Linked DNA regions of Homo sapiens. Changing the gene in region 2 together with the main gene of any one other region gives a genetic interaction. Each region holds a gene or a part of one and is shown on either strand. Other genes may lie near its edges. The genes, in order: SEC22B and BOD1L1.

What was found.
Region 1: changes in BOD1L1 (region 2) and SEC22B together harm fitness more than expected from each alone (negative genetic interaction), as found in Homo sapiens cells (one large-scale study listed by BioGRID).

Annotation. Positions count from the first base shown.
Region 1 is NC_000001.11:120,166,292-120,170,119, forward strand, and holds part of SEC22B (vesicle-trafficking protein SEC22b), read right to left. Parts: intron 2,659-3,828; coding exon 2,549-2,658; intron 1-2,548. UniProt on the Homo sapiens protein: SNARE involved in targeting and fusion of ER-derived transport vesicles with the Golgi complex as well as Golgi-derived retrograde transport vesicles with the ER.
Region 2 is NC_000004.12:13,596,398-13,600,225, forward strand, and holds part of BOD1L1 (biorientation of chromosomes in cell division protein 1-like 1), read right to left. Parts: coding exon 2,549-3,828; intron 772-2,548; coding exon 707-771; intron 1-706. UniProt on the Homo sapiens protein: Component of the fork protection machinery required to protect stalled/damaged replication forks from uncontrolled DNA2-dependent resection.

The DNA.
Region 1 (3,828 bases), on a different chromosome or scaffold from region 2:
TTATCTGTACCCCCATGTTTACGGCAGCACCATTCATAATATCTATGGATAGATAATCAAGAGAAATGTCCATCAAGAGAATAATGGATTTTAAAAGTGTTTTTTACACACACACACACACACACACACACACACACACCATGGAATACTATTCAGCCATAAAAAAGAATGAATTTCTATCATTAGCAGCAACATGGATAAATCTGGAGGACATTAAGTTAAATAAAATCAGTCATGCACAGAAAGATAAATATGGCATGTTCTCATTCATATGTAGGAGCCAAAAAAAATTTTTGAGCTCATGGAAGTAGAGAGTAGAATTGTGGGTATTAGAAGTAGGGAAAGGTAGAGAGAAGGGGAGGATGGGCAGAGGCAAGTTAATGGATAAAAAATTACAACTGGATAGGAAGAATGAGTTCTGGTGTTCTGCAGAACTGTAGGGTGAATATGGCTAGCTATAACTTACCACGTATTTTCAAAAAGCTACAAGATTTTGAATGTTCACAACACAAAGAAATGATAAATGTTTGAGGTGATGAATATGCTAATTACTCTGATTTGATTACACATTGTATACATGTATTGAAATATCACTCTGTATCCCATAAATATGTATAATTATTACATGTCAACTGAAAATAAAAGGGAAAAATTTAAAACATAAGGAGGAGTTTAGGGGCCCAAAGCATTATATATACTCCCATCCTTGCCCTTTCTATGTGGCTCCTGAGGCATCCTAGGGCTCCATAAAGGATAAAGACTATTATATGATCTCTCAGGCCCCTTAAAATAATATTAATAATACAGCTGTCTTATTCCTTGCTTGGGCACCTGAGTTAACTGGTCTCTTTGCTTTTAGTCTACACCATCTTCTATACCATCAGTTTTATTCCCAGAGACTACAGATGACCATATTACCCTGCTTACAAACTCTAAGGGTTCCCTAATACCTACAAAATAAAATCATACTCCATGGTATTATATTTACAGCCTTTCAAAACAAGTGTAAGCAACATTCTATCATATATTTTAATAAACCAAATGGCGGACTGTTCTCCAACATGCTAGGTTCTTTACATATTTGTGGACTTCTGCTTATATTGTTTTTTCTAACCGTTAATGCTCTTTTAAATACCTGGAGAAATCCTGTTCATTTTCATATGTTCAATTCTACCATAATTTTTTCTGTGAAACTTCTTTATATATACTCCCCTCCTCTGTCCCGTTTCTTCAAACTTACCCCCTACAAATGGGAATTTGTTCCTTCCTTCTCTCTGTTCCCAAAACATTTCATTTAAATCTAATTTACAACATCTTTTCAATTAAGATATTATAGTATACTTGTTTGAGTATATGTCTCTCTCTCTACTAAGAGAACAGTGTTAAAAGGTATGGACATTAAATGCAGGACTCAATATAAGGTCTGGCAAAGAATAAACCCTTAATAGCTCTTGGATGGAAATAAAGGATGATATGAGATTATGAATGTCCTAAAGGAATCAGGCAGAAGAAAATCTCTTCTCAATTCCATGAGAACTTTCCTAGGTCTTGGTTCTCTAAACCATGGTGAAAATGAGGATACTAGATATTAAGTGAGTGACTATTTTTGGTGTTGAAAATTAGAGTTCTAGAAAATATTTCAGATATTATAAAAATTAATACATCATAAAACATAATGTCCAACATTTTCTTAGCCAATTGCCTAGGGTTTTATTTTTGTTTTGATGTACTTTTTACTTGTCTTTTATAGGTAGAGAATTTTTGTTTTGTTTTTTAAAAGTAAACATAGCAGCTTCCTCCCTGGCCTAAGTTATCTTACTATCTAAGTCCCTAAAATGGCAAAGATTATTTAACTAATCCGTTTTTATTTTCCTCTGATGCTCTTGTACTCTTTTCCTTTTTAATCCTTCCTATTTTGTCAGCTTCAAACTTGGCATGTATTAAACATTAAATACCAATTATTTGTAGATAATTTAAAATCCAATAATGTTCCTTTGAGTCCTCTATCAGCTGTATCATTTATAACCACTGATTAAGATGCTCTTATCTTTTATAATTTTCTTTTTTCAAAATAATAATAACTAATAATTATTGACTCTTCCCATGTGTGTCAGACAAGATGCTAAGTAATACACACAGATTCCCTCACAATCCTCTCAAACCTCCTATGTTTATTTTCACTACTTTATAGAGGAAACTGAGGCTTAGAGAAGTTATGTGAGCTGTTCAAAGTTACACTGTTAGGAAATGTTTGAGCAAGGGTACTAACCTACACATATCTGGCTCCAAGACAGTCCTAAAGCAAGAAGTTATCTATTATTGCATGATGGGCACAGCATAGACACATGTTAACAGGTTAAATTACTGTAAGCATGCTGAAAAAACCAACAAGATGTCCATTTTGTAGAATTAGAGCCAGAGAAGTTGCTCCTCCCAAAAGACAACATTTTTAAGTAATCTTTACTTTTTAAAAATTATTATTTTTTATCAGGCATTCTGTTACTGTATTTCACTTAAATGATCATAAAGAAATCAAGATTACACTCACTGAAAAGTCATGGCTCCTGCTTCCAAGGTACATCTGGTAGGGGACTGTTCATTCAACTTTCGAAAGAGTTGCTTAGCCTGACTCTGATATTGTTGAAGGTCCCGGCCAGACTGAAAGAAGACATCTTCATTTAAGAATTTTCCACAAAATGCTGTATCAATTAGTGAGAAGCATCATATTATGAGGACACTCTGAATGAGGTCCTTCATTTACAGGTAAGTAAGATTCATTTTAACGGAGGAAAGACAACCTACTTTCAGAGTACAGAGGAAGACCTAACCCCTACTTCTTCAAGATGATCGCATTAGTTATTTGCTAAGAAGCAAAAGCATATACCTCAAATACACTTAAGCACTCTTAACTTTCAATCCAGTGTTCTTTCCACTATTAGGACAGTACTCTCCTCCTAACCCATTTCATTTGCAGTTATTGGCACAGAACTACACAGCATGTGCTATACTCAGGGGAATATCCTAGGAACAAGATTGGTGAATTTCATTTTTATGTTGGAATATCCAGCAGAACCTTCCACAAGTGTTACAGTTTTTAGCATTTAAACAAAACTAAATGTGTGTACTAGTGACTGCAAATTATTACGAACACTTTGACTGCAATTACATAAAAATGACCAAGGGTAGAGACAAAGATTAGGATGTCAGATACCCTTTACTGAAGAAATCTATTTGGTTCCCAAGTTTGGACAGCAAAAGTTTGAATATCGAGGGATATATGCAGACAAAAATGAAAATAATAGCATTCACATGTTATAATTACAGGTAATATTTTCCTGAACAATTTCTAACTGCTTTTACAATTATTTTTGTTAAAAAGAGGGGGCAAATCTACTGGAAAAACCAGCAGTGTCATTTCAAAAGAAGAAAACCATGCATCTCCAATCTACTAGATCCAACAGGGAAAGGAAGTGCCTGAAGAATGGGAAGCAAATAGACATTGTTTTTCCATCCACATGTGGGGTAGGGGAGCTTTCTGCCAGCTACCCAGCTATAGTCTGAATGTTTGCTGGTATCCCCCACAAAATTCATGTTGAAATCCTAACCCCCCAAAGTGATGGTATTAAGAAGTGGGACCTTTGGGAGGTGATTAAGTCATGAGGGTAGAGCCCTCATGAATGTGATTAGTACCTTTATAAAAGAGACCCCAGAGGGCTAGCTTGCTCCATCCACCATGTGAGGAAACAGCCAGAAGGTGACATCTATGAACCAGGAATAGGCCCTCAATAGTCACCAAATCTGCTGGTGCTTGATCTTCACCTTGCAGAA
Region 2 (3,828 bases):
AGTGTCCTCCTTGCAAGCCCTCCTGTCTACCTGCCTATTGCTACTATTGGGCAAGTTGTGTTTCCTCTGTAGTGTTCATAACCCCCATGTTCACTGCTGTTTTGTCACATATACTTGGATGGTGCCTTCAGATCAGGCTAGAAAGAGGATATGGAGACTAAATTGTGTAAAGCACCAAAGCCATGCTTAAAAAAAAAAAAGCAGATTTTATTCTAAGCATGATGGGAAGCCACCACAAATTTTAAGCAGAGCAATGACAGGGCCTAAGTTATGTTTCTAATGACTACCTGCAGGACTGTGTGAATCACACTGGAGGAGGGCTGGAGTGAACTAAGCCTAATGGAGAGGCTACTGAAGTAGTGGCTTAGCCTAGGGTGATGACTGTAGAAACAGAAATAGATGGACTCATGTTATATTTTGGAAATGGAACCTGTAAGAAATGGCGATAGATTAAATGTGGGATGACGGAGAAACTGAGGGTGACTCTTGTGTTTCTGGCTTGAGTAAATGAACTGATGATAGCACTATTTACTAAGATTACTGAGGTTCTTAGCTTTCCCCCCACAGGATATGGCAATAACAACACTAAATATCATAAGTACAATGAGAACAGGACCTATATACCACATAAGTATATATATGTGTATATGTGATGAAACAGTATTTAATCACTTACAGTTCAGCACAGCTGAATTATAAGCCATACCTCCATTTTCAAGTTGGCTTTCAGTTTCAATCCTCCCAAAACATTCAATGGAGACTCTTCATTGCCTAATAAAATTCAAGCCATTTAGTACAGTTTAAGAATTTGCTTGCAAAATACATCTGGGGTCAAAAAGTAATGGAATGTGGTTATCTGACATGCTGTTGCACCTTCCTTTTCTGGTTTATTTTGCTGTCAGTAGAAAATGATCAAAAGGAATATGTTGTATAAAAGAATCTGGATGAAAGGCAGGGATTATTTGCTCATTTTGGGTGAGTGAAATTCTTATTTGCACAGTAAGATAACTGCCCAGAAAGAATGACAAAAGTATTATCTGTGGAGACATCTTCATTTCCAAGTATTTTTCTGCAGTGATCTCCATCAAGTTTGTCCTTAAAAATATTCTGAGTCACTAAGGTCTATTCTCAGTAAAGGTGATTTATTAACAGATTCACTTTACTTGCTTCACACTGAACACAGAAAAATTGAACACAAAGTTAAACTGTGAGGTAGACAAAAAGAAAAAATTTTCTCAGGTGCAGAGATTCAGTTCTACTCTGGTCTTGCCTCTTATATCCTTCTTTAGATTGTGTAGAAGCTTCTGTGGAAACCCTTCTATTTTCACTTCTTCAGGAAAAAAGGAGGAATGAGTAATTGTAGCAATGATTGAGTCATAAAAACTTCTGGAGCATTCAATTTACTCCAGGCTAAATTCAACAGAAACTTGTAAAGTTACTTGTTTCAACCCTTGGAGCATTTCTTAAAGTCTCCTAAGTCTCTATAATGAACAAGACTAAATCTATTAGCCTCAGCTTCCTGAGACTGGGTTAGATGATGGCTAAGGTCTATTTCAGTTAAAAGTCCAGGATGCTACAATTTATATAGCCAGAGTGGAAAAGAATTCCTCTGTCCCTTCAAGTCCAGCCCATGAGGACCCTTTTGTTCCTACAGCATCCTGTGCTTAATCCCAGTCTATGCAATTGTCATGCTTTAAAGTGTCACTGTCCACTTTTCTCCAATCTGGACTGGTATAAAGTATCTGAAGTTGGACGGTATAAGGCATGACTGAGATAATATCTTTGAAAGTTATTAACTATTTCTAAAAGACCAGCACTGTCCAAAATCTGTCAGCAGGGAAAAATGTTTCTTTTCACTTTCAAATATATTCTAAACTAGAAACTCATTTCACCTGAAAAATAAGCTCAGTTAAAAATAACATGCTCCTTTGATTCAAAGGAACTAACAGACTGAACAAACAAATACTGCAAACCTATGATCAGATGAGGGTTGGAATCGTGTTTGCCTTTGTATTATCATCCCGTCTTATTATCCCCATTTTATACAACAAGAAATGGAGGCTCAGAAACTGATTTTTCCTCTAAAAGTCACCCGAGGACCATGAATGCTATTTAAATTTTCTGACCCTATTTCCTCGTTTGTAAAATGAGGGTGGTAAAAAAAAAATGTATTGCTTTCATTGGGTTGTGGTAGGGTATTCTTCTTTTTGATTGACAAAAAACCTGTAGGTCAAAAAGGTTTAGTAAGTTGCAGCAGTCATGTAAATAACATGTGGACTTCCCATGCCTCAGCCTCCTGCTTTTTCTCTCCCCACACATGAGAAATGGGCCAAAGGCTTTAAACTTTTAAACACAAGTAGCTTTTAGAGAAGTTTGACCTTCAAGTTTGATGAGAGTTATTTTGCAACATTATGATATGAGAAAAAAATTTATAGATATTTTATCTTTCTGGAACCAAAACCATCTTTTGGAAGACTGTCCTAAATGCACTCTGTTGTACAATCATCCTTGTAAATATTAAAATTTGCAATTAGGTACAGATTCTCACCTATGTCACACACATTTTCTTCAGAAGACACAGTAACCATTATGTCTCCTTCCTCAGGGAATGATTTCCTTGTGCTGTTATCATCTCCTGTTTTCTCAGCAGATGCTTGATCAGTCCATTTGCCACTATAATCATTCTTTATAGTCAAGTCCTGCTCACATTTAGGAGCCAACAGAGCTACACTGTAAGTAGCTGGAGGGATCATTGTGTGGGAAGGAGCAATTTTTGATTCTTGGCCAGTAATACATTTGGTGGTACTGGTTTTCAAGTTGTCTTCAGACCCCTGCTGCTCAGCAGGAAGAAAGGAATGCTCAGCCACGGTCCCTTGAACAGGTGGCATGTCATCAGCTTTTATAGCACCGGTGTTTACTGCTGCCAAATAGCGAATGCTGACAGAGGGATCCTTAGCCGTCTGCCCAGACGTCTGTTCTGGTCCTCTCAGGTGGGCAGGTGAGTTAGCATTCCCCTCTAAGCCCCTTCCTGCTGAATAACTTGCTGTGCTACTGCCCCCTGCTGTCCCTGTCTCTGGGCTCTTATCTTCTTTCTGAAGGGAGTTCAACAATACATTCTTCTCTTCTGCATTTATGAGGTGTAAAGTGCTCTCTTTCTGTCCTCTTCCTGCAAATGGTCCTATTTCGGGGCACTCCTTGCCATGCTTCTCTTCTTTTTCCGCACAAACAGCACTTGGATGGCCTTGCCCTGCAGAGGGCTTGTGGACTGATGGCCCGTTGTGCCCCTCCTCGGTGCTCACTGCCAACACGGGACCCGGTTCTTTGCCTCCCCTGACTGGCCCAGGACACCGACAGTTATTCTCAGCAATTAGGCTGGGCATGGGGACCTTGTGCTTGCTCACTTCTGTGGCTGACAGGTCACCGTTCCCTTCTGGGTTGTCTGCAGTCAGCTGATTCTCTTCATGTCTGTCAATGCTGGCGGAAATTGGCATACATTCTGCTGTGCTGGTGGAGATGATGGCAGCATCGCTCAAGTCTTCTACTCTTGTGATGGTGAGCCGATCTTCATCCTGGAGGACAGCACCAATCATGACTGCTTCACACCCTTCAGAGGTGCTTGTGGAAATCATGGCGGTGTCACCCATCTCTTCCGCTGGTGTGACTGAGGGGTCGCCTTCCTCTTGAGGGACAGCACTGGACACTGGGCCCTCACAGTCTTCCACCGAGCTCGTAGAGATGATGCCACTCCCGTCTTTTTCTTCCATGACTGTGCCAGCTCGCTCATTTTCACTTTCAACAACTACACCGGAAACAGAAGCCTCACATTCT